Linked DNA regions of Homo sapiens. The protein of the gene in region 1 interacts with the protein of each later gene in a biochemical or structural test. Each region holds a gene or a part of one and is shown on either strand. Other genes may lie near its edges. The genes, in order: MKLN1 and MAEA.

Region 1 (15,404 bases):
GTCTTTATAGATTTTTGTTAATTATTTGCTTTTAAACTATCCTATTGCCATATTTCTATTAACATATAATTGTTATAGGAGAATGGTAAGGAGAGGAAGAGTGAGTTATGCCTGTGAAGTTAAGTGGTAGGTAGAAAATCAAAACTAGTATTCTTGGAAATACTCCCCAGCTTAAATTTGGAACTTCTGTTGGCTCTATTTAACTGAGCTCCACAGAGCTATGCACATCCCTGCTGACACCCTCAATGTTCTTCACGTGGAAAATAAGCATGCCAAGAAAAGTTAGGCTGGTTCTGATCTTTTAAAAACATCAGCAGATAATATTGTTAGGGAACAATTTATTCTCTTGTTCCCAAATGGTTACGTATTTCTTTTACAAAAGATGCTGATGTCTTTTTTTTTTTACAGGTTGAAAAAAGAATAGCTTAGGAGTAGCACATAGAGAGTTCTTGTGTGTGGCCTTTGTTTCTCTTGACTTTTATAAAATAGGATGTTTCTTGAAAGCTGGGTGCTGTTAAATAATGCATGGTTTTCAACTGGTTAGATGGTACAGCAGAACACTGGGGGTGAAGAAACAAGGATTTCAGTACTAATTCAGCCAACAACTATCCCTGTAATAGTGAGCAAGTAATCTGTATAATCCTGCATTTGCTATTCTATTTCATACAAATAAAGCTATAAGTTAGAACTTACACTTGTAGTGTTTATGACACTCCAAAAATAGCTTGTGGTGTTCATGACAATTTAGGATTTAACACAATGTTCAAATTTGATAAAAATATGAGAAAGCTATACGATACAAACATGCTTAAAAGCTATTTGCCATTTTTAATTTTAACATATTTAAAAAATAAAATTTAAAGACATCTGGATTTCTTAAGAACATAGTGGCGGTTTAGTTCTCAAGCTTTCCTTGATGTTGCTTTGTGTGGTTTTCCAGGAATAATGGTAATCAAGCAAAAAGATTTAAACACACACACACACACACACACACACACACACACACACACACACACACACACAGTCTCTCTCTCTCAGCAAAACCAAGAGCTAGAGTAAACCTATAACTCCCAATGCCTTGTAAGTTTAGCCAGAAACAACTAAAATACTCAGAACTTTTGTTGAAGCCCACAACAGTATAATAGGGAGACCTGGGAAAGCAAAGGGAGCCTAGCAGTTGTATGTCACAGTGAGAAGTGTCAGGGACAGGGCACAAATTGCACCCAGGGCAGCCACTAGAAGAATCAGTGAATTAACATGTGTAAAGTACCCAGAAATATCCAGAGGTGATATGTGTCAGAAAGCATTATTTTGTAAAAGTGAAGGAAACACAGTGGGAATGATGGCTCCTTTTGCAATGGCCAGTAAGAAACCTGGGGAGCTCAAAGCTTGAGATCAGCCCTGTAAGCCAGATGAGAGTCATAGAATTAGAGAAGGTATGGCTTCACCGGAAGTGCCATATTTTGAAGGAGCCATTCAATTCAGTAGCAACAGAGGAAGGAGTTCTTGAGCGAGAACATCCACCTTCTATAGAAATCCTCTGTGAAGTTATCTGGTCCAGGGAAATTCAACTCAATTACATATGAAAAACTAAAAAGCAATAAATAACAAAGCTTTAGAGAGACATTCTAAAGAAAAACAATAAAAAGAAAAATAACAATAAATGAAAGTTATATCCCAGTACATTACCCCTTTCAGAAATGAAGACTTATCTACAAAGAGCGTAAAGAAGAATAGGTAATGATCATATAGCATAGGAATAAGATAAAACAAAGAGGTAAAAATGATTAACCAGGGAAGGTAGGCAGAGGAGAGCCAACATATATATATATAACTGGAGACTTTAAAGAAGAAAGCCAAAACAATGGAAAAAACAAATATTTATCAATTGAATTCAGGAACATTTTCCTGAAGAAAGATTTTACTCCGCATGTCAAATGGGCATACTATATTCAGAAAAAGTTGACCCAAATACTTAACTCTAAGACATATATTAATAACACTGACTATAAAAGATAAGAGATCATTTTATAGCAAGTAGACAAAATGATCAAGTCACCTATAAGAGAACTAAAATGAGACTGGTATCAGATTTCTCTACATCTACTTTCAGTGCCAAGAGATAATAGAGCAACATCTAGAAGACATTCAAGAAAAGACAGTATGAGCCAAGAATTTTATATCTAGCCAAACTGTCCTTCAAGTATAATCAGTTTTTGTGGAAATTACTAGAAAATGGAAAGTGAGCTAGCCAAGAAGTAGCAGGAAAAACTTCAGTTGAAGAATTGAAGATCTCAGCTCATTGATATTCTCACTGGGTCATGAGGCATTTTTGGAGGTTTGTAGAAGGGAGGGTGGTAGGTTGGACAACATTGGATACTTAGAAGCCTTTATAGCAATATCTTCAAATTTTGTGAGGAGAAGATTATTTTGAACCCAGCCAAACCCTTACCAATCTTGTATTCCTGTGATGAGTAAAATAAAGTCATTTTCAGGTTCAAAAAATAATTTTTCCCAGGAAAATAAGTGGTTATCCACTATTTTGATTTTAAAAATTAAATATCTAACTCCTGACATAATAAATGAATAGTCTTTAAACTTTTGGCTTTAAAGATTTTTTTAAGTCTTTGATGGAAAAGACATTATCACACAGAGTTTAATAAGTTTACTAGCTTTTCAGAAATTTTTTCGGAGAGTAAAAATGACAAAACAAATCAAAAGCGTGGAAATCGAATATTAAAAGGTTTCTTGGTTTAAACTGGTATGCTAGGAAGAACTACCAAGATAAAGATGTTTATACTTCAGCCCTGCAAACAAATGAGAATAAACCACATCAAAATTAAGCTTGAATATTCTCAAAAAGAAAGAAACTCTTTGTAGCCATACGAAGTAGAAAGGTAGGGGGTTGGTAACAAAGATTGGCCATTAGTATGAATCTGTGAGTTAATAAAAAATGGAAATAGACTCATTTAATGTGAGTCCCTAAAGATTTTCAGCATAGTTCCCAGATATTTGGAGTGATTGAGTCTGAAGTACTTCAGAAACGGAAATGTGACCCAGCTCCAGTGGAGCCCTCAACGGAGGCAGTGGATGGGGCCAAACTGAGTTGTTTTCAGCAGTGTGCTGATTTTAACTGTATGATCATTTTAAAAAATAGGAATACTTCCAGACATCTTTGTTTTTCAACCATGTTTACCAAGATTTCACCCTTGGGGAATAGATTTTCATCTTAATTTATGGAAGTCTTTGAGAAACCTGGGAAATGGCTAATGAGGTAGATCTTTTTAGTGGTAGATAAAAATTAGGAGATGTTAGAATCTTTTTAATAATAACTACAGTTTTTTAAAACAACATTTAAAATTATGAAAATAGCCAGGCACGGTGGCTCATGCCTGTAATCCCAGCACTTTGGGAGGCCGAGGCAGGCGGATCACCTGAGGTCGAGAGTTCAAGACCAGCCTGACCAACATGGAGTAACACCATCTCTACTAAAAATACAAAATTATCCTGGCGTGGTGGCATATGCTGGTAATCCCAGCTACCCGGGAGGCTGAGGCAGGAGAATTGCTTGAACCTGGGAGGCAGAGGTTGTGGTGAGCCAAGCTCATGCTGTTGCACTCTAGCCTGGGCAACAAGAGTGAAATTCTGTCTAGGAAAAAAAAACAAATTATGAAAATAGCCTTTTGTTTAAAAAAATACATAAATAGCAGAAGTAATCTGGTAGGAGAATTGAACATCAAATGGTTGGGTTTTATTTTAGCAAAACATAGATGTTTTGTGTACACAATTTATTCTTTATGTAAATGCCACTTACGTTCAACAGCTAATTCCCAACTTGGATTTATGTGTTATTTGAAACAGAATTTGATTCTTATTGTCTCGTGACAAATGGCTGTTTTCTCACACATTTTTATGAAAAGTTATAATCTTGAGTTGAAAGAATGGAAGAATAAAGCTTGACTTTTAAACATGAAGTGTATAGCTTAATTCAAAGAAAATTAAATAGTGCTATGTTAAAAGTAGGCAGAGTTCTTCACATTGTAGAAGTCAGTCTGGAGACTTGATTGTTGTAAATGTCCTTTTGTTTGTTTGTTTTACTGTTTTGTAACATAATCTGAAGGGTTTTATAAAAATAAATGCAGAGAGGTGAATTTAGCTTCACCACTCTTATTTGCATATCTGATCGCTTAGTAAATGGTAGTAATATTAATAGGATGCTTGCCTAGAATGAAAGAAGGGAATTTTTATAAGGAGGGTATGATCACTATTCACCCAGAATATAAGTATTCACTCTTACATATAAATCAACGCCTCATGTATCATTGGTTGATTTTGATAAAAATTATGCAATTTCAAGAAAGCAGAAAGCTCTTTATTCCAACATGTTTTTACCCTCACTGACAAAAATGACAACTTGAAAAATTATTTAGAAACTTGCATATGATAATCAGGGGTGGTATTTAGTGTCATTAGGGACAAAGTTTAGGGTTTTTTTGAGAATGTAAAACTGTACATGTTGGTTTTGTTTTAGCACATATGACAGGAACAAACTAAAACTATTCAATCTGTTGCCTTGTTCTGATAGATGTGTATGGACTCAGAAAAACATATGATCTACACTTTTGGTGGTAGAATTTTGACTTGTAATGGCAGCGTAGATGACAGCAGAGCCAGTGAACCACAATTCAGTGGCTTGTTTGCTTTCAACTGTCAATGTCAAACCTGGAAACTTCTTCGAGAGGACTCCTGTAATGCTGGGCCTGAGGACATCCAGTCTCGAATAGGACACTGCATGTTATTCCACTCAGTAAGAACATTCCGTACATTGCGTAAATGTTATTTTGTCATGTATATCTAGATAGGAAAAGAAGTGGTGAAATCTAATTCTTTAGGAAGAGATTAGTGTAGCAATGACAGAGAAAGACAAAACTTCTTTAACAGTGAACTGTTTGCTAATTATGAGACTCTTCCCATCAACCTGGTAATTCCTAAATAGTTACTACCTGGCTACCAACCTGGGCAATCTTATGACTAATTTCACTGCTTATGTAGATTTTGTAGCTATGTTCCTTTCTTATGCCTTTCCACTTACGTCTCTTAGTAATTAGAAGGACAATTTCTTACTCTGTTCTTATTTTCCCTTCTGCTATTCTCCATTAAGTACAAAGAATTTAAGATTTGATTTTATAGAATTAGAATTTAAATGTATCAGCAATGGTCAGGAGCAGTGGATCACTTGATTCCAGAAGTTTGAGACGAGCCTGGCCAACATGGCGAAACCCCATCCCCAGTAAAAATACAAAAATTAGCCTGGCGTGGTGACCTGTGCCTGTAGTCCCAGCCTCCCAAGTAGCTGGGATTACAGGCATGCACCACCACGCCCGGCTAATTTTTTGTATTTAGTAAAGACAGGGTTTCACCATGTTGGCCAGGCTGGTCTTGAACTCCTGACCTCAGGTGATCCACCCGCCTCTGCCTTCTGCGGTGTTGGGATTACAGGCATGAGCCACTGTACCTGGCCACTTTCTTGATGCTCAAATTTTTCTCTTTGGCTAGTAGGAGCACCCCCCACAACATATTTATGTATCTTTTTTTGTAAGAGAAAAATTAAATTGTGAATTCATACTGATATGTCTGATTCAAATAAAATATTTTTTATCTTAATGTCTTCTATTTTGTAACTTTATATCTTTTCTTTTTACCCCGACTGGAGCGCAGATCGTAGCTCACTACAGCCTTGAATGTCAGGGCTCAAATGATCCTCTCACCTTAGCCCCCCAAGTAGCTAAAACTACAGGTGTGTACCACCACACCTGGGTTTTGAGTAGTAGTAGTAGTAGTAGTAGTAGTAGTAGTAGTAGTAGAAGAAGTAGTAGTAGTAGTAGTAGTAGTAGTAGTAGTAGTAGTAGTAGTAGTAGTAGTAGTAGAAGTGGAAGTGGAAGTGGAAGTAGGAGACAGGGCCTTGCTGTGTTGCCCAGGCTGTCTCAAGCAATCCTCTCACCTTGGCCTGCCCAAATGCTAGGACTACAGGTGTGAGCCACCATGCCTGGCCTATTTTTGTGTCTTTTAAGGTTAAAATCCTGCTTCATAACATTAGTTGCTTTGTCTGTCTATAATAGCTTTCACAGTAAAGAAAACTAACAACAGAATCACTGAGTGCTGTTTAACGTTGCTTTCTGATTATTTTTCTGTTTAGGATTTAGACTTCTAGGGATGGGTAGTCAAAAAGTATGTATTAAAATCATTAGAAATACTATTTCTGTGTCTGAGTATATCTTTATATACAGATAGGTTTATTTGTTGGATTTTTTTTGCCCAAATTTTAGATTTTTTTTTTGAGTTAATTTTGTCTTCTAATTAAATAAAAGCATATACATTGTTCTAAAGTCAAAACCATACATCAAGGTATTATTTTTGGAGAGGTCTTCCTGCTCTGTTCCTGCCACTATAGGTAACTGTCTTTTATTAGGTTTTGGTTTATCCTTCCTTTGTTTTTCAAAAAAAGAAGCAATCTCTATTCTCGCTCTCGCTTGCGTGCTCTCTCTCTCACTTTTCCCCTCTCTCACATTCTCTTTCCCTCTCTCCCTCTCTTTTTGTCTGATGCACAGATATTCCTTCTTCTCCATTCCTACACAAAGGAAGAAGGAACCTGTATATATTATTCTGCACCTTGCTTTTCTTCTTTAACAGGATGTCCTAGAGATCCCCTTTTAGCAATATGTAGAGAGCTTCCTCTTTCCCTTTTATTCCAGCATAGTACTCCATTGGGATCTGTTATAAAATTACTTTTGTAGAGGTTTAAGTTTTTAAAGGATCATTCTGAGTTCTTCATGGAAGTGATAAGTTACTCCTTTCTTTTTTTTTTTCTTCTTTTTCAGAAAAATCGTTGCTTATATGTATTTGGTGGCCAGCGATCAAAGACCTATTTGAATGATTTCTTTAGTTATGATGTGGACTCTGATCATGTAGACATAATATCAGATGGCACCAAGAAAGACTCTGGGATGGGTAAGGGCATTGAGTGATTTCTTCTCTCATGTCTTAACTACTTTAGGTAGAAAACTGCAGTTCATTCTCTTTTCTTTCTAATCATTTTTCACCCTTTCTTTATTTCTTTAATTGAGTAATTCCAAGTAAGAGAAAGAAAATTCTACCAGCTTATTCAGTTCTATCTATTTTTAAATATGGGAATTACTATTTCCTTCAAGCAGAAAATATGTGAATTTCTAAATGAATTGTGTGTGTGCTTGTTGGGGGGCGGGGTAGGAAGAATCAATATCTTAAAAACTTTTTATTCTGTGTTTGCTAATTTTTTTCATCTTCTATTTTCACTGTAGTGATCTTTATATTAGGCACTAGCATAGTAGGGTGTGTGTCTTAAGGGGGGAACTTCATGGGATTGGTAACACCTTGTAAGTTTAAAAGCTCAGCATCTAGGAGGTTATTAGTAGTGGAATGGCTGGTTTGCTTAGATTATGCATATTGCCCTGGCATAATTATTAATAGTGCTCCATTCATTTTCAAAAGTGTCCTGTTTTGATCATTTATAGTTACCCTACATAGTAGTTGCTTTGCCTGTGATTATTGTACCTAAAAGAGTGGCTTTAATTAAGGTGCAATGGTTTAAAATGCTAATTTGAACAATAGAGTGAGAAATTAAATCAGCTGCTTTTCTTTTTAGCTGTTGCTTATAGATTGGTGTTTTTATTATTGGCTCTTTTGCCAAATGTGGATAAAAGCACTTGTTTCACAGACATTGTTTCTGGATATTTTATTGATTAATACAAGCTTCCTTTAAAACAAAAACAACAAAAATATTTTTAAATTAAAATATTTGTTCACATTTAAGAAGAAAAACTTGTTTTAAAACAAACAAACAAAAAAACAAAAGATAGGCAAGGCACAGTCGCATATGCCTGTAATTCCAGCTAGTCCAGAGACGGACATGGGAGGATTGCTTGAATCTAGGAGTTTAGGACCAGCCTGAGCAACAAAGCAAGACCCTGTCTCTACAAAAAGGAGGTTTCCAGATAAAAGTAGACTCAATAGATATGTTAAGCATTTGGAAGAAAAATCTGTTGATGAGTATAAATAGCATCTAATGTAAAAAACGAAGGATAGGGACACAACAGGAAAAGCGAAACTTTTTATAAAAAAGGAGACATTATCACAGTAAATTTCTTGGCTTTACAGTAAGCAGTATTTCCCTAATCATAATGCAGAACTACAGCCAGTTTAACCAAAAATTGGGATGAAATATAGTGGGAAGATAGTGTAAGTGTAGTAAACATCTTCGTCTATTACAACAGGAAATTAGTAGGTAATGTCTAAAATAGCAGCTTAGCATGTGATTTAGAAATATGGACCTGAATAGGTAATAACATTATTTACCCTATCTAAAATTGTCTTATTTACTCATTTATTTACTGTTGCCATAGGAGAGTGTAGAGCTATATGATTTAATATTTGACTTTCTCTGGCTTTTAAGAGTTATTCTAACTTACCATTAAAATAACTAGGAGGGTCAGGCGCAGTGGCTCATGTCTTTAATCCCAGCACTTTGGGAGGCTAAGGTGAGAGGACTGCTTGAGCCCAGGAGTTTGAGACTAGCCTGGGCAGCATAGTTAGCCCTCATCTCTATAAAATAAAAATAAAATAGCAGGAGAGAGGTAATACTCCTTCTACAATCCTAAGATGGGTCTCCCTGAAAAAGGTAGTGAAGATAGTAATTGATATGACAATATGTTGAAAATTATGGCATGCTGACTCAGTGCTAGACTACGGACACAGTGGATACAAGGCAATCACAGTCTCTCAAAGTGCTTATAATCTAGCTAGTAGGTAATGTATTCCCATGGATAATAATTACTACTCTTTATTTAGACCCTACCATATACCAGAATATCTTTAATTGGTGGTATTATTCTAATGTACAAGATGAAAACAGTTACACAACTACGTAATGACAGAGCTGGGATTTAGAAGTTTGAGTGCAAGGAAGGTGTTTCTGCCATGCTAAACTACTGCCCAAGATTAAAAGAAAAAAGTGGCGGCCACGTGAGGTGGCTTACACCTGTAATCCCAGCAGTTTGGGAGGCCAAGACAGGTGGATCACGAGGTCAGGAGATCGAGACCATCCTGGCTAACGTGGTGAAACCCCATCTATACTAAAAATACAAAAAATTAGCTGGGCGTGGTGGCGGGCGCCTGTAGTCCCAGCTACTCGGGAGGCTGAGGCAGGAGAATGGCGTGAACCCGGGAGGTGGAGCTTGCAGTGAGCCGATATCACGCCACTGCACTCCACCCTGGGCGACAGAGCGAGACTCTGTCTCAAAAAAGAAAAAAAAGTGGCAATGCGTGATAGTGACAGAGAACTAGTAAAATAAAAATTCACCATGACAAGTAGGCTTTAATGACTGTCATTCAAAACAATTTTTTAATGAGTTAAAATTATGTAGTAATGTACAGTATCGACAATTATTCTTCAATCATGGTTATGGCTAGCTTTAGAGCAGTGTGGCAATTATTCTTTTTATTTAATTTTGTTGTGGTCATAAAAGTAAAAATATGCTCATTGTAGAGAATTTGAAAAATAAGATGCAAAAAAGAAAATATGTCAAACTGTCCAGAGATAACTTGTTAAAATTTTGATATATTTCTGTCTAGTCTTTTTAAAACTTATTTATTGTATAAAAGTTGATACAAGTTTGTATTCTATTTTAAAATTTACATTAAATTGTGGGATTTTTTCCATTATTGTGGTTTTATTAATGTGAACTGGAGATGTTATTAGAAAAGACAAATGGATTCATTGTTTGATTACTGCTATAATCAATTTTTCTAAAATCAAAATCACCATTTTTTACTGTGTGTGTTCAGTGTGTAATTGGTTTACACAATTGAATTTTCCCACAATGCAAATAAATTCATTAATAATATTTGTTGACCATCTACTAGCATCTAAGTTTGTCCCTCTCCCTTCCTCCTTCCCTCCCCACTTAGTTCATTGTCTTCTGTAGGCCCAAGATTATTTTAGGCACTTGGGATTCATCTATGGACCTGGAGGATAAGATCCTTTCCCTTAGAGGACTCACATTCTAGTGGAGAGAGACCTGCAGTTGTGTTCTAAGTACTGTGAATAAAATACACTGGATGCCGTGATAATGAATAACAAGGGAAGTCTCATTTAAACAGAGTAGGTTGGGAAACCATCTTTGAGGAGGTAATCTTTAAGATTTAAGATGAAAAGTAGAGAATTAGGAAGAACCATGTGAAGAACTGAGAGAAGAACAAGTACAGAGTTCCCAAAGCAGGAAGGAACCTGGGATGTTCAGAAATAGTGGGACTGGTACGTATTGAGGATTGGAAAAGTTGGTATGAAACTAGGTTAGAGCTACGGAGATAAGAGTCAGAGTATTTAGTGCCTTGTTACAAATGCAAGGAGTTTGGATTTTTTTTCTGAATAAAATAGATTATTCAAAGGTTTAATATCAGTGTCTTGATCTAAGTTTTAACAATACCACTTCTTTGTCTAGGTGTATATTTTCCAAGTGGTTAATTTTGACAATGTTCCTGTGAGTTGCATTGTTCAAAGGCTTGTTTACTGAGGATTTTTATGGCAGGGTTGAGCATCTGGTTAGAATTACTTGGAAAAATTTCCCACCTAAAACTGTTGCAGTTATACTTGGAATTGAGGAACCTCAGTGACTCTGTTAGCACATTAGAGTGAAATGGAAATTATTCTCTTTTTTTCTGTTTTTTTTTCCCCTCATCTCTGCCTCTCTCACTTTCTTCCTTTTCCCTCCTTCCCATTCTTTTTCCCATGTCCCTTTTACTCCTCCCCCAACTTTCTCTCTCCTAGAGGATTCTAATATGCGGCTGGGATTGAGAACCACTGTTCTAGCTCTCCGGAGTCTATTTCAGTCCTTAGTTAACCTTAAGCAAGTTACCTAATGTCTCAGCTTTTGCTTCCACATTTGTAAATGACCCAAATTAGATTTTAAGGAAAATAGCGTCTCTGTCCATGGCTACCCTAGGAGTAGAGATGGGTTAACCCTCTAGTTTCGACTGGTGTTACTGTTGGGTGCCTTAATTTTCACAAGAGGATGTTAATACTGCTACCCTCAGGTTCACTAATCTAGCCAGTTAACATCAAGTCATGCCAATTTTGCCTCATCTTCTCTCTATTCCCATTGCTGCTTCACTATGAACTAGTTTGGGCTAACATCACCTATTTGGCCTCTGTCTCTAGACTTCCTCTCCCTATGTACCCCTCCCTGCAACCCATTCTCCACACTGCAAGCAGGATACAGCTATTCTGTGTTACCAGTAAAGAATAGAACCATATGCCTTAACATTTATAGAGCAGATATTTTTTGGTCACCTACTAGGTGCCAGACAATAAGCTACGCACTAGGAGTACAACTGTGAATGAGGGCCCTATCTTCATGGAGTTATGGTTGTACACAGAGAGGAAAAATAAAGTGACAGCCTTACCTTTAGATTAGTGCTAGTGAAGAAAAGAACATATTTTTAAAAATACAAACCTAGTGGGTTTTCTTCCTCACTTTAAATCTTTTAATGGTTTCTCCCTGCCCTCAGGATTAAGTCTAAACTTAACATAATTCACAGACTCTTTTATGATGTGCCCCATTTTAGTTCTCCAGTCCTAGTCTTGGTGTCTGTACTCTTCTTGCCACCAACTCTGTTTCACGACCACCGAATATTAAATCTTTATAGATAGTGTGTTTTAACTTGCCTTTGAGAGTTGCCCATGCTATTCCTCCTACCTGAATCACTTTCCTCTCCCCTCCAAAATCTAGCTAACTTGTACTGCTTACCTCTCAGATCTTAGCTTGTAGATCGTTGTCGCCCAAAATTCTCTAATGCCTTAAGCCCAGGTTAGAAATATAAAAACATGTGGCTCTAGCCATCATTGTTAACGCAATTCTAGGTATTCATCTGGCTGTAAAATCTTGACTGTGCTTTTCAAAACCTATACAAAGATCAGCTGAAATACACAGACTTGTTCATGATTTCTTAAAGAGCATTCAGTGGTTTCAGTACTCTAGATCTCCTAAAAGTCTTTTACTGAACTAAATTAGACTGTTCAGAAAACCTCACATCAGAACCATGGTATATTATATTGTCCTCCCATAGAATTATTTTACCTCACTTTTAAAAAGTACATTTTTTTCTCTCTTACTAGATTTTTATTGTAAGCAGTGAAAAGTACTTTTAAGAAGGCAGAATACTATTTAAATTCCCACATTTTTAAAATATTCTTAGAAAACACCAATTTTATCCATTATGTAGATGCTCTGTAGCTTATTAATCATTCTGTTGTTTGTTAACTGTTGTTCTAAAGATTTTTTACTACAGTTAATTACTGTAATTTGAGATGGACTTAACATATAATTACTGTGTTTATCTGTGATTCAGTAATGTGGCTTATTTGATTAAAATTATATTTACAATGTGAGTATCAAATGGGATTGTTTGAGCTCATAGAGTAAATTTGTTTGAACTATTGAGATCACCGAGATGGTATAGCTAATAGTAAAATTACTGCTGTTTATATAATTCTGTATTGTCAGATACTATAAAATCTTAAGTTGTTGCTCTTTATAATTATCTGAATGTACCATCTTAGATTTAACATCTGAAGATCTGAAGAAACTTTAATGCTTATTTTTAAACTACAGTGTAACAATTTTATGCTCTCCTCAGAAGAAAATTATAATTTAAATCAATGGATTGGCAGCTGCTTTAAGGGATTTATTAGCATTGTGTCTAATACATACATAATTACATCAAAATTCAGCATATCTAAAACTTGAGTTTATTTCTGAGAAACTTTTGGCAAGTAAGACTGTGAACACAAGGGGTTTAGCAGATTCCCCATATGTAAGCTCTGTATTTAACACTAATTGAAACTTATGTGTAGAAGATGGTCTGTCACACCACCAGAGTTTTGTAGTTTTCTATAGAAACTCAGTCTACTATAGTAAGAGTGCTTTCTCCTGTTCGTATTCATTCAAGGAAGAAGCATATATTGAACCTTCTTCATTTGCCAAATGCTAAGTCAAGTATTGGTAATACTGAGGTCTTACAACCTGATGCTTGTTCTTTAGTAGTTATGTATTTACTTGTTTTGATTTTTAAATTGTGTCCACTCTGTTTTCCCACATCTGCCATTGTTTATTCCATCCTGTTCTAACCATTATAGCAGATTGGTACCATTGAAAGAATAGCAAATTGAGAATCAGAAGACTTGGTCTCTCTTTGTCTGGGTCTGCCACTCATCCCTCTGTAATTCTAGAAAAATTATATAACTTCTCTGAACCTGATTATTCATCTGAAAATGAGGAGATTGGACCAGTTGATCATAAGACCTCATCTAGCTCCAAAATTTTGAAAATTAAATTTCATTCCCTTCTGCTGTTATCAGGCTGTGAAACTAAGATATGAGGGCTATGTGAGTTTACATCTACAGAACTTGATTTATCTATAAATAAATTTTTATGAAAACCTTAAAAGCAAAATCATACTGATTTTCATTTTGGCCCTGGGAATGTGCTTATTGTGCTTACTGACATTTTAAAAAATTAGTATGGTCATAACTCTTTATGTTTCTGATCCTTTTATACTTTTTTTTTTTTTTTTTTTTTTTTTGAGATGGAGTCCCGCCCTGTCGCCAGGCTGGAGTGCAGTGGCACAATCCCGGCTCACTGCAACCTCTGCCTCCCGGGTTCAAGCGATTCTCCTGCCTCAGCCTCCCGAATAGCTGGGATTACAGGCATGCGCCACTACGCCCAGCTAATTTTTGTACTTTTAATAGAGACGGGGTTTCATCATGTTGGCCAGGATGGTCTTGATCTCTTGACCTTGTGATCCGCCCGCCTCGGCCTCCCAAAGTGCTGGGATTACAGGCGTGAGCCACTGCACCCGGCCGATCCTTTTATACTTTTACCAATTAAATGAGTAAAGCCAAACTGGCAACACAGAGAAGACTTTGAAGCTGATGATTTGCTGTCATTAACATAGATTAGTTACTGGACTAGAAAATGGTAGCGCTTATTTTCAACATAATTAGGCTTCATTGCTGTCAGTTTAGTATGTTTTGTATTTGATGTGTCATTATTCAAACAGAGTATCTACTTTTTGCCTCTCAAAATTATTGGTAATAATAACTTTCCCTGATTTCCCCCTTCTACCCTCCCAGGGGTGTTTTTGCTAGTTACAAGCTTACAAGAGTATTTTATATTTTTAGATATGATATTTAGGTTACTTGATAGTAAATGAGAATTAAAGTTCACATGTAAAAACAAACATGCAAGAACACTAACAACAATTTTGAAAGTTAATGAAGTAGTACTGGCACTACCAGATATTTATAAAGCTACAATTTGCCAAAGTACAGACTAATGGGATGAAATAGAGCAGATAGTATAAAAATGTCCCCAAATACATATGAGAATTTAGTATATGGTAAAGTTGGCATTTCCAGTCAGAGAGAAAGAATAGATTAAACAGTATATGACATGGAGACATTGCTTAAGACTTGGCAGTATTTTAAAAAAAAGGAAAATCTGACTCCAGCCTGGGCAACGGCAAGACTCTTTCTCTTTAAATAAGTAAATAAATAAATATGAATAAATGGGAAAATCTGGATCCCTACTTGACTTTTGTACATCAAAGAAAATTCTAGGTGAACTTAAGTTTCATACTTAAGAAATAAAATTATAATTCCAATTATTTTTAATAATCTAGGATTAAGAGAAGACCCTTCTAAACATGCCACAAACCCAGAAATCATAAAGAAAAGGAATGTTTGATTTTTGCAAAATTAAAAAATATAAAAAATTGTTAAAATATCAAATAATGACAAACTAGCAATTAAGACAAAGCTTATTTCCTACAATGAACAAAAGGCTCTTATAAACCAATAAAAGTGGATAATCCTGTAGTAGAACAATGACAAATTATATGAATAGATACTTCGAAGAAAAAATAATTCATATTGCCAGTAAATTTACACATGTACAGATGCTCAGCTTTATTCATAACTTTTAAGTGTAAATTAAAAAATCACTCAGTGAATGTTGGTATGGCCATGAGGAAGCAGGTGTCTTACATTCTGGTTGAAATGTATTTGGTACAGCCTTTTTTTTTTTTTTTAACAGTACTTTATCATTATCTGTTAAAATACAAAAAATATATTTTTTTGACTAAGCATTTTACTCCACGAACTTTTCCTACTCATATACTTTTATAGATCCACAAAAAATAAGCTATACAGAGATATTTATTGTAGTATTGTATGCAAGGAGAAAAAATCTGAAGACGGATTGACCATCAACTTATTTGATTTTTATTTATTTGATTGTCCACCAGTAAATAAA
Region 2 (15,404 bases), on another chromosome or scaffold:
TCGGTAGCAGACGGTGATGCTGGCTGCCATTTGCAAAGCCTCCTGTGTGGCTGTCTGGTGTGGACGAGAGCGTGTGCACCCTGTCACCCGCGGTGGGTCCACGTCGGCGCTGGGGGATGTCTGAGTGGAGGGCAGCTGGGGCCAGGCCGAGTGGGGAGTGGCAGCCGGGGGAACGGGCTCAGGGCCGGCCTTGCCACCCGCCTCCTGCCCCTGCTTTCGGGGGGAAAGTGAGTCTAGGGAAGAGCCCTGCTGTGTGGCTCCTTCCTCGGCTGAGGCCAGTCCTGTCTCTGTTGCCCTGGCTGTCCCTACTTCTGGGAAGCCCAAGCGCTGAGCTGCGTCCAGGTCTCCCTCACTGCAGCCCTGCCTTCCTCACGTGGCCTCACGGCTAAGCACAGTGGCTGACACGAGGTCGAGGCGTGCCCAGGGCCGGGGGAGCAGGCGGTACCCGAGAGTCTGTCCTCCCATGGTTGGGCACGGCTGGAGAGGAGGCGAGGTGGAGCGCTTGTTCTGGCACAGCTGCGACGGCAGAGTTGGGCCCACTGCTCTTGGGCGGCAGCACGGCCGTGTTGCTGATGCGCTGTGTGGTGAGCTGCCGGCCACCAGTGCAGCCAGGACCGCAGGTGGTGTTTCCTGCGGGAGCCCGGCCACGGAGGCCGGGGAGCGCTGGGGCGTGATTCTGTCGTGCCGCTTTCAAACCGTAGAGCACAGGAAACGGGCGGAGAAGAACTCAGCAGCGCTTCTCTCAGAGGGACAGAAAACTAACAACGACTTTAAGATTCTCCTTGATTGGCTTATTTCCACAGGGAATGGATGGTTCTTACGACTGGGGAAGGCAAACGCTGTCACACAGGAGAGGTGTGGGTCGTGCACTTGTGGCTTCCCGTGCGTGTGTGAGGCTTGCTGTGCCCAACCCCAGCCCGTGTGGAGCCCACGCCCCATGCACCCTTGTCCCTGCCCGGCCTGGCCTCGTGTGGTGGCGCCTGCAGCCGCAGCAGCCTGGCTGATCACCGGCCAGGCCTGTGTTTTACCGTCTGATAGCCTCACACCCCGGTCACTCCTCTCCTGTTTGGAAATTTCTTTAACTGTTCGTTATTCTGGATGAACTTTGGGATTATTTTGTCAACATACACGTACAATGTTTTTGGCAAAAATTGGGGTTGCTTCTCATCCAGGGATGTGGAGTGGCTCTCCGTTCAGCAGGGCTTTTGTGGGTCTTGGTTGAGGTTTAGAGTAGATACTTTTGAGACCATGAACCTTCTGAGACTTCTGCCTCTACAAGTGCCATGAGGAGACCTGGTGTGTCCTGGGTGTGGGGCTGGTGGGGCTCACACCAGGGGAGCAGATCCCTCACCATCCTCCTTCCTCTCCAGGTGCCCTACGAGACGCTGAACAAACGCTTTCGCGCCGCTCAGAAGAACATTGACCGGGAGACCAGCCACGTCACCATGGTGGTGGCCGAGCTGGAGAAGACGTTGAGCGGCTGCCCCGCCGTGGACTCCGTGGTCAGCCTGCTGGACGGCGTGGTGGAGAAGCTCAGCGTCCTCAAGAGGAAGGTTGGTCCCGCCTGGCGGTCCCTCTTCAGTCTGGGGCATGGACACCCCTTTTGTCTCGAAAATGAGTCCTAAGACAGGCAAGCTGCAATGATGGGAACGCGGGAGGTGCGGTTGGGGGCCCCCTTCCCTGCTGTCTGCCTTCTGGGGCCACTGTCGGCTGAGCAGGCCAGCTTCCTGTTCCTGTAGGGACCGTGTTGTCTTGCTCCAGGAGTGTCCAGAGTCCAGGCCACAGGGAGACCAGGATGTATAGCAGGTTGATTGATTTTTTTTTTTTTTTTTTTTTTTTGAGACAGAGTCCCACTGTGTCATTCAGGCTGGAGTTCAGTGGTGCGATCTCAGCTCACTGCAGCCTCCACCTCCGGGGTTCAGGCGATTCTCCTGCCTCAGCCTCACGAGTAGCTGGGACTACAGGCGCCCACCACCACGCCCGTCTAATTTTTGTATTGTTAGTAGAGACAGGGTTTCACCATGTTAGCCAGGCTGGTCTCGAACTCCTGACCTCAGGTGATTCACCTGCCTTGGCCTCCCAAAGCTGAAATTACAGGTGTAAGCCACTGCACGCGGCCTGATCGATTATTTTTAGATGGAATTTCACCTCCAAGGAGCATGTGGAGTTCCTTGTCACTGGGATTGGTGGACAGGGGCCTTGGGACTAATCTGGCCCACTGAAGACACCCAGAAAGTGGGATGAGATATCTTGAAACGTCGCACTGAAAATACCCAATAAACCATGAAACCGAAAGGAATCGCCAGGCCAGAACCGGAGGGCAGGGGTCAGAGGTGAGCAGCAAGAGACTGCTGTTGTCCCCTGGAGTGTTGGCCAGGCCAGATGGAGGTGAGGACCGATGACCCAAGCCTTGGAAAGTGGGGCCCAGTGGAGAGAAGGTGGGACCCCACGGTACTACAGCTCAGCGTGGGGTGTACCAGAAGTGGACTGGCGTTGACACAGCATTGCAGCCTACGTTCAGAGGACTGGGATGATTGGAGACCCTCAGCCTTCACTCCGGTGAGGTGGTCCCGGCTGGTGGTGCCTTCCAGCTCCGGGCAGAGTCAATTCAGATTCTTTCTTGGGGAGGATACCTTCAATATGGGCATAAGATGATTCTTAGATTCTCAGTTTTCAAGTACAACGTCCAGCACAGAGACAGCCTGGGCAACAGTGAGACCCTGTCTCAAGACACCACGATGGACTGGAGACCCAGCAGGCAGTAGACAGAGGGCTGCACGGACTGCAGGTGCAGGGGCTGCCAGGTGCCACACCTTACTGTGCTTAAAGAACAGAAGCAGGCTGGGCGCGGTGGCTCACACCTGGAAAGCACTGTGGAAAGCTGAGGCAGCAGAATCACTTGAGCGCAGGAGTTTGAGACCAGCCTGGGCAGCACAGGGAGACCCCATCTCCACAAAACATTAAAAATAGCCAAGCGTACTGGTGCCCTCCTGTAGCCCCAGCAGATACTCAGGAGGCTGAGGCAGAAGGATTGCTTGAGCCCAGGAGGTCAAGGCTGCAGTGAGCCACGATCATGCCACTGCACTCTAGCTGGGCGACAGCGAGACCCTATCTCAAAAAAAAGTTTGAAAGTCTCTGCAGGGAACAGACAGTATAAAAAGTGATTTAAGGCTGGACACTGTGGCTCACTTTGGAAGGGCGAGGCAGGTAGATTGCTTGAGCCCAGGAGTTTGAGATCAGCCTGGGCAACATGGCAAAACCCCATCTCTACAAAAAATAGCCAGGCGTGGTGACACACACCTGTAGTCTCAGCTAATTGGGAGGCTGAGGCAGGAGAATCGCTTGAGCCCAGGAGGTCGAGGTTGTAGTGAGCAGAGATTGTGTCACTGTACTCCAGACTGGGCAACAGAGTGAGACACTGTCTTAAAAAAGTGATTGGGCAGGCACAGTGGCTCACGCCTGCAATCCCAGCACTTTGGGAGGCCAAGGCAGGCGGATCACCTGAGGTCAGGAATTCAAGACCAGCCTGGCCAACATGGCGAAACCCCGTCTCTATTAAAAATACAAAAAAATTAGCCGGGCATGGTGTACGCCTGTGGTCCCAGCTACTCGGGAGGCTGAGGCAGGAGAATCACTTGAACCCAGGAGCTGGAGGTTGCAGTGAGCTGAGATCGCACCACTGCACTTCAGCCTGCACAGAGACTCTGTCTCCAAAAAAAAAAAAAAATTCAGAATTTAAAAGGGACTAAAATTTCAAGAAATGGGAAATATAATAACCAAAAATGAAAAACTCAACATTTGCCTATAACAGTTTAACAGTTAACAGACAAAGCTAAAGACAGAATTAGTGAACTGGAGGGTGATCGAGAATGGAGCACAGAGACTGAAAAATCAAAGTGGCTGCGAGAGTAAAGCATGGAATAGAGCAGAAACCTGTGGCATGTTTCACCAGAGCCCACCAGTGGGTGGGGACAGAGATGGTGCGGGGAGAGTGACCAAGGTTTCAGAACTGATGAGTACCACCAGGTCAGAATCCGACACAGAGTAAGTGAAAATAAACCGACATGGGATTTTCCCGTGGTGGAACTGAAGAAAACAGAGACAAAGAAATATTTGAAAAGCTCCTGAGGGCAAAAGATGACTTCCAAAGGGGCAACAGACAGCCGGACAGCTGATTTCTGCACAGCAGTTGGAAGCCAAAATTGGTAGAATGTGCTGAAAGAAGCCAGCCCGGATCCTGGATCTGTCCAGTAGTCAGTCGCCGTGTGTGCTGTCAAATTTTTAGCGAAGAATTCAGTTCCTCAGTTGCACCACTGCCCTTAAGTGTGTGGCAGCCACGTGGGCTGGTGGCAGCTGTGTTGGGCAGCACAGGCCTGGAACGTTTCTATCTAGCCCGATTCATTTTTAACAAAATTGACTTTAAGAAAAAAAGTATTGCAAAAGATTTTTTTAAAGTCACCTTATAATGATAAACAGTTTAACCAGAAAGGCATAGCAAATTTGAAATTGTATGCATCTGGCAACATGGCTTCAGGGTATATTAATATAAAGCCAGAAATAGCAGAGAGAAGCTGCAGATCCAGGGTGGTGGATTTTCACTGCCTCCGTCTGCAGCTCTTGGGCCAGGCACACCTGCCTAGCGGACTCGGTAGAGCACGGTTTTTTTTCTGTCCCGTAATCCCTGCTTTTCTCCTTGTGAGTGTTGTGGATTGGGGCAGCCTGGCCTCCCTTGGTGCAGGGCTGCGGGGCATCCCTGTCCTGAACGTGCCTCTGTTGTGTGTGGCTCAGGCGGTGGAATCCATCCAGGCCGAGGACGAGAGCGCCAAGCTGTGCAAGCGCCGGATCGAGCACCTCAAAGAGCATAGCAGCGACCAGCCCGCGGCGGCCAGCGTGTGGAAGAGGAAGCGCATGGATCGCATGATGGTGGAGCACCTGCTGCGTTGCGGCTACTACAACACGGCTGTCAAGCTGGCGCGCCAGAGCGGCATCGAGGTGGGTGCCCGCCAGACGCAGGCACAGCGCCCCAGCTGGCCCCAGGCCTATGGCCAGCCGCCCTGTGGCATGTCCCCCGGCATGCCTGTGTCCCTACATGCTTGTGTTCCCCTCCCCCCACCCCCGTATGCTTGTGTTCCCCTCCCCCCACCCCCGTGTGCGTGTGTCCCCCCTCCAGTGTGTGTGTGTGTCCCCCTCCCCGTGTGCGTGTCCCCCTCCCCCCATGTGCATGTCCCCACCCCTGTGTGCGTGTGTCCCCTTCCCGTGTGTGTGCCCCCCCCCCCCCAATGTGCGTGTTTCTCCCCCACCCCGTGTGTGTGTCTGCGCTGTGGTGAGGGCCTCCTCCCCAGCTGAGAGGCCCTGACCCTTTGTGGAAACGCACCTGGGACTTAGCCTTCTGAAGGCAGGAAGTCAGTGTCTAAGCGGCTCTCCAGGTTCTTCTCATTTCCCTGTGGTGTCTGCACACATCCTGCTTAGGATTTTCCCGCCCGATACCTGTACCCCGGGTTTTGCGCTGACACATGCTCCATTGCTTCCTCGTGAGAGCTTTGCCTTTATCTCAGGCGGGGTGCGTTTTCCGTGTTTTCTGTGGCACCCTGTAGAAACACGTGGCACCCTTGCCCTCTGTGGCTACAGCTGAGCAGACGCTGGGCGGTGCTGCCCTCTGGCACCTTTGGGCCAGGTTAGCTGGGGCGGCCTCTCTGCCATCGGGCAGTTGTCCACTGCTGTGGGGGCCCATGGCAGTTGGAGCCTCCCAGACCAGCACTTGGGCCCGTCGCCCTTGCCCCTGTCCAGATCCTGCTGTGGGAGCACAGCCTCACCTGACTCGGGTTAAGGTGGCGTCCGTGTTCCATTTGACTGAGATGACAACACTTGAGAACCTCTCAGGCAGGACTTGTGCGAGAGGATTGTGCCCCATGGCCCTGTCCCGGGCCCAGCCTCCCCATGCCCAGCCATGCGCCTGGCCCCACAGGCCTCCCTCCCATGCTGCTCCCTGCCACGGCTCCTCAGCCCACCTCCTCCCTGCTTCTGTCTAACCAGGGGTCTTCTCTCTTTCCACGGCTTAAATCCCACCCACATGTGTGTGGCTCCCACCTGGGGCATCATGGGCCTCAGCCCTGGCTGAATTCAACCCCAGCACAAGGCTCCCTTCCCAGCCTTGGAGGCGGCCTCACATTGTGCAGTCCAAGGCCTCGGGTGCCCATGGGGCCACACTCACGCCCCCATGCAGCCATCTGCACGCCCTGCTGGCTTGCAGCCTCCCCCACACTCCTGTCACGCTCCTGCCCAGCTCCCCAGCCTTGCGGCACTCCAGACTCACCCCCAGGCCCACCCGGCCCCACACTCCAGACTCACCTGCAGGCCCACCACGGCCCCACACTCTAGACTCACCCCCAGGCCCACCCCGGCCCCCACACTCCAGACTCACCTGCAGGCCCACCCGGTCCCACACTCCAGACTCACCCCCAGGCCCACCCCGGCCCCCACACTCCACACTCACCTGCAGGCCCACCCGGTCCCACACTCCAGACTCACCCGCAGGCCCACCCCAGCCCCCACACTCCAGACTCACCTGCAGGCCCACCCCAGCCCCCACACTCCAGACTCACCCGCAGGCTCACCCCAGCCCCCACACTCCAGACTCACCCGCAGGCCCACCCCAGCCCCCACACTCCAGACTCACCTGCAGGCCCACCCGGCCCCACACTCCAGACTCACCCGCAGGCCCCACACTCTGGACTCATCTGCAGGCCCCACACTCCGGACTCATCTGCAGGCCCCACACTCCGGACTCACCCGCAGACCCACCTGGCCCCACCCTCTTGCTGGCTCTTGTCCTCGGCATTTGTCCCGCACCTCGTTCACCTTCTCTCAGATGCTGCCCTGGGTGGAGCGGCACCCTCCCACCCATGCCTTCTCCCCACTGCTGCACAGCCTCCCTGCTTGTGTGTGTGTGTGGTGTCCGTCCTGCCCTCCAGGAGGGGAGTGGCGAGCAGCTGCCCAGTGGGCAGGGTGAGCGAGTGAGTCCTCGTGTCCTGGAGGCCCTCATCTGCCCAGACCTGCACAGCACTGTTGCTCTCGGCACCGCTGGGGTATGGCGTCTCGGTTCACAAGCGTGAATGTGATGTGTCACAGCTGTGCCATGAGTTGATCTGCCAGATGGCAAAGTGCACTGATCCTCTGCGGTGACCGGGGCTGGTGCCCCTGGGTGCCCTGCAGTCTTGTTGAGTTTCCGAAGTCTCCAGGTCATGACTCGCAGCCACTCCAGTGTGCACCCAACATTCTCATCGCTGGACGGGGTCGTCTGTGATGCCTCTGCCGTGCTGCCCACTGGGCTGCTGTGGCCCCCATCTGGTGCCATTTTTCCTCCACCTGGGTGTCAGGGAAGGGCATTCTCACCTGCACCTGCCCAGGCTCATGTGACGGACAGTGGGCCAGCACATGTCCGCTCCGGTGCCCTGTCCCACATGCCTTTCCCACCCACCCGCCTCCCTGGCCCCGTGTGCCCGGCTTCCCCCAATGCACAGGCCCTCGCTCCGTGCTGCCCACATGTCCTGGCTGCCTGGGGCGGCCCCCCGTGTGTTCATAGATGACCTAGCCATCCTCTCCTAAACGCCCAGCACACTGTCCTTGGGACCCATGGGGTGTGACCAAGCAACCTGGCGGTGGCTGCTGAAGCATGAGCTGTGGGTGCCCCTGGCCCCAGGGAATGTGCGCTGTGTTGGGGGAGAGAGACGTGAAGTGAAAGAAGGGGGTCCTGTGGTGGGCACAGGCCACGCGTTCCACAGAAGTGCGTAGAGCAGGGTGGATATGGGAGTGCTGATGATTCTAAGGCCAGTTGGAGTAGGCCTCAGCAGGGTGAGACGGGCTACACTCAAGGTGTTGGGGTGCCCTGAGCATGTCTGTCCAAAAGAGGGCCTGGAGCTGCTGTGTGGAAGAAGGCGGGCGTGTGGAGCCCATGAGGACTGGGTTGCGGGGGAGGGGTTCTTTCTGCTGAGATGCTCCGGAGGGCGTTGAGCTGAGGAATCGCTTTTGACCACAGGTGACCATGGCACTAGGAAGCCCTGGGGAAGGTGCTGCTGTGGCCGAGGGGGAGCTGCCAGGTTGTGGAAATGTAAACCCCGGCTGCGCTGGTCAGACCTGGACTTCCTGTAGGGGGCGCCATGGAATTCCCACGTGGGACCCCAGTTTCCTACCTGTGCACCAAAATTCCTGTGCACCAAAATTGGAGACGTGACAAACTTAGGAAAATAACCTCATGCTCTGGATTGGAGCAAGGTCCCAGACAATACAGGACAGGAAGCTGCTGCCAAGGGAAGGCCACCCAGGAACAGGACAGGAAGCTGCTGCCCAGGGAAGGCCACACAGGAACAGGACAGGAAGCCTGCTGCCGAGGGAAGGCTGCCCAGGAGGGGCAGAACAGAGTCCTCAGTGTGGCTGGTGCTGTGCGCCTGCCTGTGCTGCCTTAGGCTGGACGCAGGGCTCTCAACCCGTAATCCTAGCACTCTGGGAGGCTGAGGCGAGCGGATCTGTTGAGCCCAGGAGTTTGAGACCAGCCTGGGCAGCAAAGTGAGAACCCTTCTCTACAAATTTTTTTTCAAATTAGCTGGGAGTGTTGGTGGGTGCCTGGGGTCCCAGCTACTCTGGAGGCTGCAGTGGGAGGATCACTTGAGCCCAGGAGGTGGAGGCTGCAGTGAGCCAAGATTGCACCACTGCACTCCAGCCTGGGCAACAGGACAACACCCTGTCTCAAAACAAACAAAAGTCAGCATGAGCATTTCGTGTGAGACAGAAAACCAGTTCACTTAGATGGTTTCTAGTTTCAGTTGACGTACGAGCCTGCTGCCAGCTGGCCTCACATCTTTCATGTGACTCTCACAACCGGAGACCCGGACATTGGAGAAACCCTCAGTAAGAGAGATCCAACTGGGTTCAGACCCCGAGGCTGTGTTGACGGGACATGAGGCAGGATATAGACCAGGAGCCACCTCCTGAAATTTAGAGCAAAACTACAAAACAAGGCCTTTGGGAGACCAGGGTGGGAGCATCACTTGAGCCCAGGAATTTGAGGCAACAGTGAGCCATGATCTCACCACTGTATTCCATCCAGTCTGGACAAGAGAGCGAGACCCTGTCTCAAAAAAAAAAAAATGGTTTTTCAAGTTGCAAAACAAAGTAAGACTTTGTGGGAGACCCAACATTCGCCTGCCCTGAAGGGGCTTCAGAAAAGAAATCATCAAAGCAAACATGCAAGAAAACACTATGAAGGGGCTCCAGAAAAGAATCATCAAAGCAAACATGCAAGAAAACGCTATGAAGGGGCTTCAGAAAAGAATCATCAAAGCAAACATTCAAGAAAACGCTATGAAGGGGCTTCAGAAAAGAATCATCAAAGCAAACATGCAAGAAAACGCTATGAAGGGGCTCCAGAAAAGAAATCATCAAAGCAAACATGCAAGGAAACGCTATGAAGGGGCTTCAGAAAAGAAATCATCAAAGCAAACATGCAAGAAAACGCTATGAAGGGGCTTCAGAAAAGAATCATCAAAGCAAACATGCAAGAAAACACTATGAAGGGGCTTCAGAAATCATCAGAACAAACGTGCAAGAAAACACTATGAAGGGGCTTCAGAAAAGAAATCAAAGCAAACGTGCAAGAAAACTCTATGACGGGGCTTCAGAAAAGAAATCAAAGCAAACGTGCAAGAAAATGCTATGAAGGGGCTTCAGAAAAGAAATCATCAAAGCAAACATGCAAGAAAATGCTATGAAGGGGCTTCAGAAAAGAATCATCAACATGCAGGAAAACGCTGTGAAGGGGCTTTAGAAAGAAATTATCAAAGCAAATATGCAAGAAAACGCTATGAAGGGGCTTCAGAAAAGAAATCATCAAAGCAAACATGCAAGAAAACGCTATGAAGGGGCTTCAGAAAAGAAATCATCAAAGCAAACCTGCAAGAAAATGCTATGAAGGGGCTTCAGAAAAGAAATCAAAGCAAACGTGCAAGAAAACGCTATGGAGGGGCATCAGAAAAGAAATAATCAAAGCAAACGTGCAAGAAGACACTATGAAGGGGTTTCAGAAAAGAAATCATCAACATGAACATGCAAGAAGACGCTATGAAGGGGCTTCAGAAAAGAAATCATCAAAGCGAACATGCAAGAAAACGCTATGAAGGGGCTTCAGAAAAGAAATCATCAAAGCAAACATGCAAGAGGCCGGGCACGGTGGCTCACGCCTGTAATCCCAGCACTCTGGGAGGCCAAGGTGGGCAGATCACGAGTTCAGGAGATCGAGACCATCCTGGCTAACACGGTGAAACCCTGTCTCTACTAAAAATACAAAAATTTAGCCGGGCGTGGTGGCAGGCGCCTGTAGTCCCAGCTACCCGGGAGGCCAAGGCAGGAGAATGGTGTGAACCCAGGAGGCGGAGCTTGCAGTGAGTGGAGATTGCGCCACTGCACTCCAGCCTGGGCGGCAGAGCGAGACTCCGTCTCAAAAAAACAAACAAAAGCACACATGCAAGAAAATGCTTTGAAGGGGCTTCAGAAAAGAATAATCAACATGCAAGAAAACGCTATGAAGGGGCTTCAGAAAAGAAATCATCAAAGCAAATGTGCAAGAAAACGCTATGAAGGGGCTTCAGAAAAGAAATCATCAAAGCAAACGTGCAAGAAAACGCTATGAAGGGGCTTTAAAAAAGATATCATCAAAGCAAACATGCAAGAAAACGCTATGAAGGGGTTTCAGAAACGAGAAACCGTTAAAGAAAAGATGCAAGGAAACAACACTGTGAGGGGTTTCAGAAAAGAGAAATCATCAAAGCAAACATGCAAGAAAATGCTATGAAGGGGTTTCAGAAACAAGAAATCATGAAAGAAAAGGTGCAAGAAAACAACGTTATGAGGGGTTTCAGAAAAGAGTAATCATCAAAGAAAACAGCGCATCTGTGAGGCCGGTGGTCCAGACGTGGGGCTGTGGGACCCAAGTGGTGAACTGTGGCCTCATCCTGGGCCGTTGGGTCCTGGGCTATGTGCAGGCGGAGGTGCCGTCCTTGGTCCCACTGGGGAAGGTCGGGAGTCATTGCTGCTGAGGACCACCTGAGCGCTTGCCCCAAGCCTTGCCGTGCCTGGTGGAGTCCCGTACCAGCTGCTGTCCTGCCCCTGCCAGAGACCATGGGTTCCACTGCTAGGCACTGAGCACCCACCCCCTGTGCCCGGCCACTAGCGGAGACTTGATGCTAAGCCTGGGTTACTCTGTTTTTTTTGTTGTTTTTTTTTTTTTTCTTTGCTTTCATATAAATCATTGGTTGTAACTACCGCGATATTAGCCATAATGTGTTTATGTATTATTTAGCATGTTATTATTTGCTTACTGTTGATTTTGAAATGAGGGGGCTGCCCAGGGAGGGCCTGTAGATGTGCTGGGGGGCTGTGGGGAGTGGAGACAGGGCCGCCTGGCATGTGGCCTGGCCCTGCCTGCATGTGTGTCTCAGCAGCTCCTCTCCATGGACAGGTGGGGCCAGCCTGGCTCCCTTGCCCGGCTATGGCTGCTGTCTACGTGAGCGTCCGACCTTTTGGTCCTTGGGGGCTGTTCTGTTCCTAGGATCTCAGAGCGGCCCTGAGTAGTCCACGAGTGCAGACCCACAGTGTGGACTGGAGATGCATCTCGAGTGGTGGCCGGTGCTGGGCCTGCCTCATGGAGGCTGGGGTGTGGGAGGGTGGCATGGGGGCCTTGAGCCAGCACATTCTGATCAGGTGCTGCTTCCTTCCTCTAAGGACCTAGTGAATATTGAGATGTTCCTGACGGCCAAAGAGGTGGAGGAGTCCCTGGAGAGGCGTGAGACGGCCACCTGCCTGGCCTGGTGCCATGACAACAAGTCCCGGCTCCGGAAGATGAAGGTGCACGGACTCCCAGGTTGGGGTGGGAGTGGGTCGGGGCCGAGGCTGCGCCACCTGCCCTGGAGCCAGCACCCCCTTGCCTGGTGGTTCACAGTAGTTTGGTTTTGGTTTGTAAGGTGGGGGTTGGGTTTGGGAGTTTTTTTGGTGGCTGTGTTACACTTTTAGGCTAAAATCTGGAAAAGTGCACCTCATTTGGCATTACAGTTTGTGTACAGCTGGCATGAGGCTCAGAAGGAGTGGGTTACAGGAGGCTGACCATGTGCACACAGAGTGTTGGGGCTGCTGGGCTTAGAGCCTGGAGACAGGTCAGTCCTGCTCCATGGGGGTACTCCATGGGCTCCCTGTGCTCAGTCATAGACACAGAAAAGCTGGTTGGGAAGTCATTCTCCATCTGCGAGGCTGCAGAGCTCTGGGCTGTGATATTGTTAATGAATACCCACTTTTTTTTTTTTTTTTTTTTTTTTTTTTTTGAGACGGAGTCTCGCTTTGTCGCCAGGGTGGAGTGCAGTGGCACGATCTTGGCTCACTTGCCTCCGGTGTTCAAGCGATTCTCTTGCCTTGGCCTCCTGAGTAGCTGGGATTATAGGCATGCGCCACCATGCCCGGCTAATTTTTGTATTTTTAGTAGACATGGGATTTCACCACGTTGGCCAGGATGGTCTTGATCTCCTGACCTTGTGATCCACCTGCCTCAACCTCCCAAAGTGCTGGGATTACAGGCGTGAGCCACCGTGCCCGGCCGAGTACCGACTTTTGTAGAGACCAAAAGAAGCTTAAGAAATGGACTCCTAAAGGACAAAATTTAAACCTGCTTATTAAAAGGCATTGTCACCCTAGGGGCTTGCAGAAATGTTTTAACTTATGTTAACACTTCTGCCTCCATTAGCAAAACTTTTCTGTCTTCTAAACTGAGCGCTGCTTTAACCTCACCCTGGCTGAGTTTGGCAGGGTGCACGCAGTTACCAGCCAGGAGTGACACACTGCCACTCAGGGCCGCCAAAACAAGCACGAAGCAAAGACGGGACGAAAAAGTAGAGCGGCTAGTAGCTCCCCTAAAGAGAGTTTGGACCTTGGTATGGAAACCCTAAAAGGAAAGCCAGAATTGGTATGTAACCTGCGGCCCCACTACACAGTGCCAGCCCCACACTCCCTCCCAGAGAGCCGGCACACACCTCACAGTGGGAACTCTGCCAGGGCTGTTTCCTGTGGATGTCAGAGGGAAGATAGGTTCTTGGTGCTGCCAGGATATTCCTGCAAGCCCTAATTACCTGCCGGACAGTGTTGCTGGAGGGTGTTGGAGGCTTGCCACGAGCACACGACCTGTCTGAAGCTGCTGTGGGGACAGGCAGGGCCAGGACTCGGGGCCCTGAATGCATGCCTGGGGGACGAGTGTGCCTGGTGTTGGATGAAGTTGAGATTGGATGCCTGGTGGATGAGCGTGCCTGGTGTTGGATAAGTTGAGATTGGGTGAGCATGCCTTGTGTTGGATGAGTTGAGATTGGATGAGCGTGCTTGGTGTTGGATGAAGTTGAGATTGGATGCCTGGTGGATCAGTGTGTCTGGTGTTGGATGGAGTTGAGATTGGATGCCTGGTGGATGAGTGTGCCTGGTATTGGATGAAGTTGAGATTGGATGCCTGGTGGATGAGTATGTCTGGTGTTGGATGAAGTTGAGATTGGATGCCTGGTCAATGAGTGTGCCTGGCGTTGGATGAGTTGAGATTGGATGCCTGGTGGATGAGCGTGTCTGGTGTTGGATGAGTTGAGATTGGATGCCTGGTGGATGAGTGTGTCTGGTGTTGGATGAAGTTGAGATTGGTTTGGATGAAGTTGAGATTGGATGCCTGGTGGACGAGTGTGTCTGGTGTTGGATGAAGTTGAGGTTGGATGCCTGGTGGATGAGTGTGTCTGGTGTTGGATGAAGTTGAGATTGGTGTTGGATGAAGTTGAGATTGGATGCCTGGTGGATGACCGTGCCTGGTGTTGGATAAAGTTGAGATTGGATGCTTGGTGGATGAGCGTGCCTGGTGTTGGATGAGTTGAGATTGGATGAGCGTGCCTGGTGTTGGATGAGTTGAGGTTGGATGAGTGTGCCTGGTGTTGGATGAGTTGAGATTGGATGAGCGTGCCTGGTGTTGGATGAGTTGAGATTGGATGCCTGGTGGATGAGTGTGTCTGGTGTTGGATGAAGTTGAGATTGGATGCCTGGTGGATGAGTGTGTCTGGTGTTGGATGAAGTTGAGATTGGATGCCTGGTGGATGAGTGTGTCTGGTGTTGGATAAAGTTGAGATTGGTGTTGGATGATTTGAGATTGGATGCCTGGTGGATGAGCGTGCCTGGTGTTGGATGAGTTGAGATTGGATGAGCGTGCCTGGTGTTGGATGAGTTGAGATTGGATGAGCGTGCCTGGTGTTGGATGAGTTGAGATTGGATGAGCGTGCCTGGTGTTGGATGAAGTCGAGACTGGACGGGGCCTGAATCCATATTTAGATGCTGTCCAGAAATGCGCCCTGAAGACTCCAAATGACACGAAAACATGCCCGGTACGAGATGCGGCCGAGCCAGTTGGGGTACACGGCTGTCTGTGCAGTCTGCTCACATGTGCACGCACGCCAGGGGGTGTGTGGGGAGGCAAGGAGGAGCCAGACTGTGCTCTAACGGGTCCCTGGGACCAGCTGTGAGAACCTAGATGGGAAAAGAAACTTGAGACCCAAGTTTGACCTGGCTGAGAGATGGATTTCACAGGCATGGGTGGGTGAGTGGCCCTGAAGGCCCCTGAAGCAGTGATTTGTTTGCTGCACGTCTGTGCGAAAGCCACACGGAGCCATCAGTGTGGGCGCCTGTCGCAGGGCGGGCACAGCCTTGTTGGCGCTCCACGCCGTATGGGACAGTGTAGACTCGGTGTTTTAGATTTGGGTCTGAATACCTAAGTTTCACGACATAGACACACTTACATATTAGTGGACCAATTGAAAGTAACCTACTAGAGCAAAAGGTGTTATTGAAAAGCAGGTTTGAGGTGTCTATTGTGTGAAGCGGTAACCTAGAGTGGGCCCAGAGTCCTGCTCTTCTAGAGCACCCCCTCGGCAGCTGCGTCCTGCCTTTAGACAGAGCCCCGGCACTCGCCTGCTCTAGACACGGCAGCCATCAGGCAGCCCCTGGGAGGCAGGTGGGGCCCTGGTGGGGAGCCTCTATCTCTTCCCGCTGGCCCTTCCCTTCCTCTCCTGCCAGGCTGGCTCTGAAGGGAGCGGAGTGCTGACCGAAGTCTGCCTGCTGATTAGTGGGGTGGGGACTCGGGACCCTGGGATGACTTTGTGCCTCTCGGCTGATTTGTACCAAGCCTGGCACTCCCCACCCAGAGCCTGTGCCACTGCTGGGGTCAGAGACAGTCCTCCTGCCCCAGCTTGGAGCAAGCCTGTGAGTTCTGCGTCCAGCCTGTTGACCCGTCTGTCTAGGGACACAGGGTGATGAGGGGCTGAGGGTACAGGGCAGAGGCAGCAGGGCAGGGA

Evidence for each region.
Region 2: the proteins of MKLN1 (region 1) and MAEA form a complex in vitro, tested with the Homo sapiens proteins (one study listed by BioGRID).

The regions. Positions count from the first base shown.
Region 1 is NC_000007.14:131,438,896-131,454,299, forward strand, and holds part of MKLN1 (muskelin), read left to right. Parts: intron 1-4,585; coding exon 4,586-4,807; intron 4,808-6,878; coding exon 6,879-7,008; intron 7,009-15,404. UniProt on the Homo sapiens protein: Component of the CTLH E3 ubiquitin-protein ligase complex that selectively accepts ubiquitin from UBE2H and mediates ubiquitination and subsequent proteasomal degradation of the transcription factor HBP1.
Region 2 is NC_000004.12:1,310,609-1,326,012, forward strand, and holds part of MAEA (E3 ubiquitin-protein transferase MAEA), read left to right. Parts: intron 1-1,370; coding exon 1,371-1,553; intron 1,554-4,788; coding exon 4,789-4,992; intron 4,993-11,772; coding exon 11,773-11,895; intron 11,896-15,404.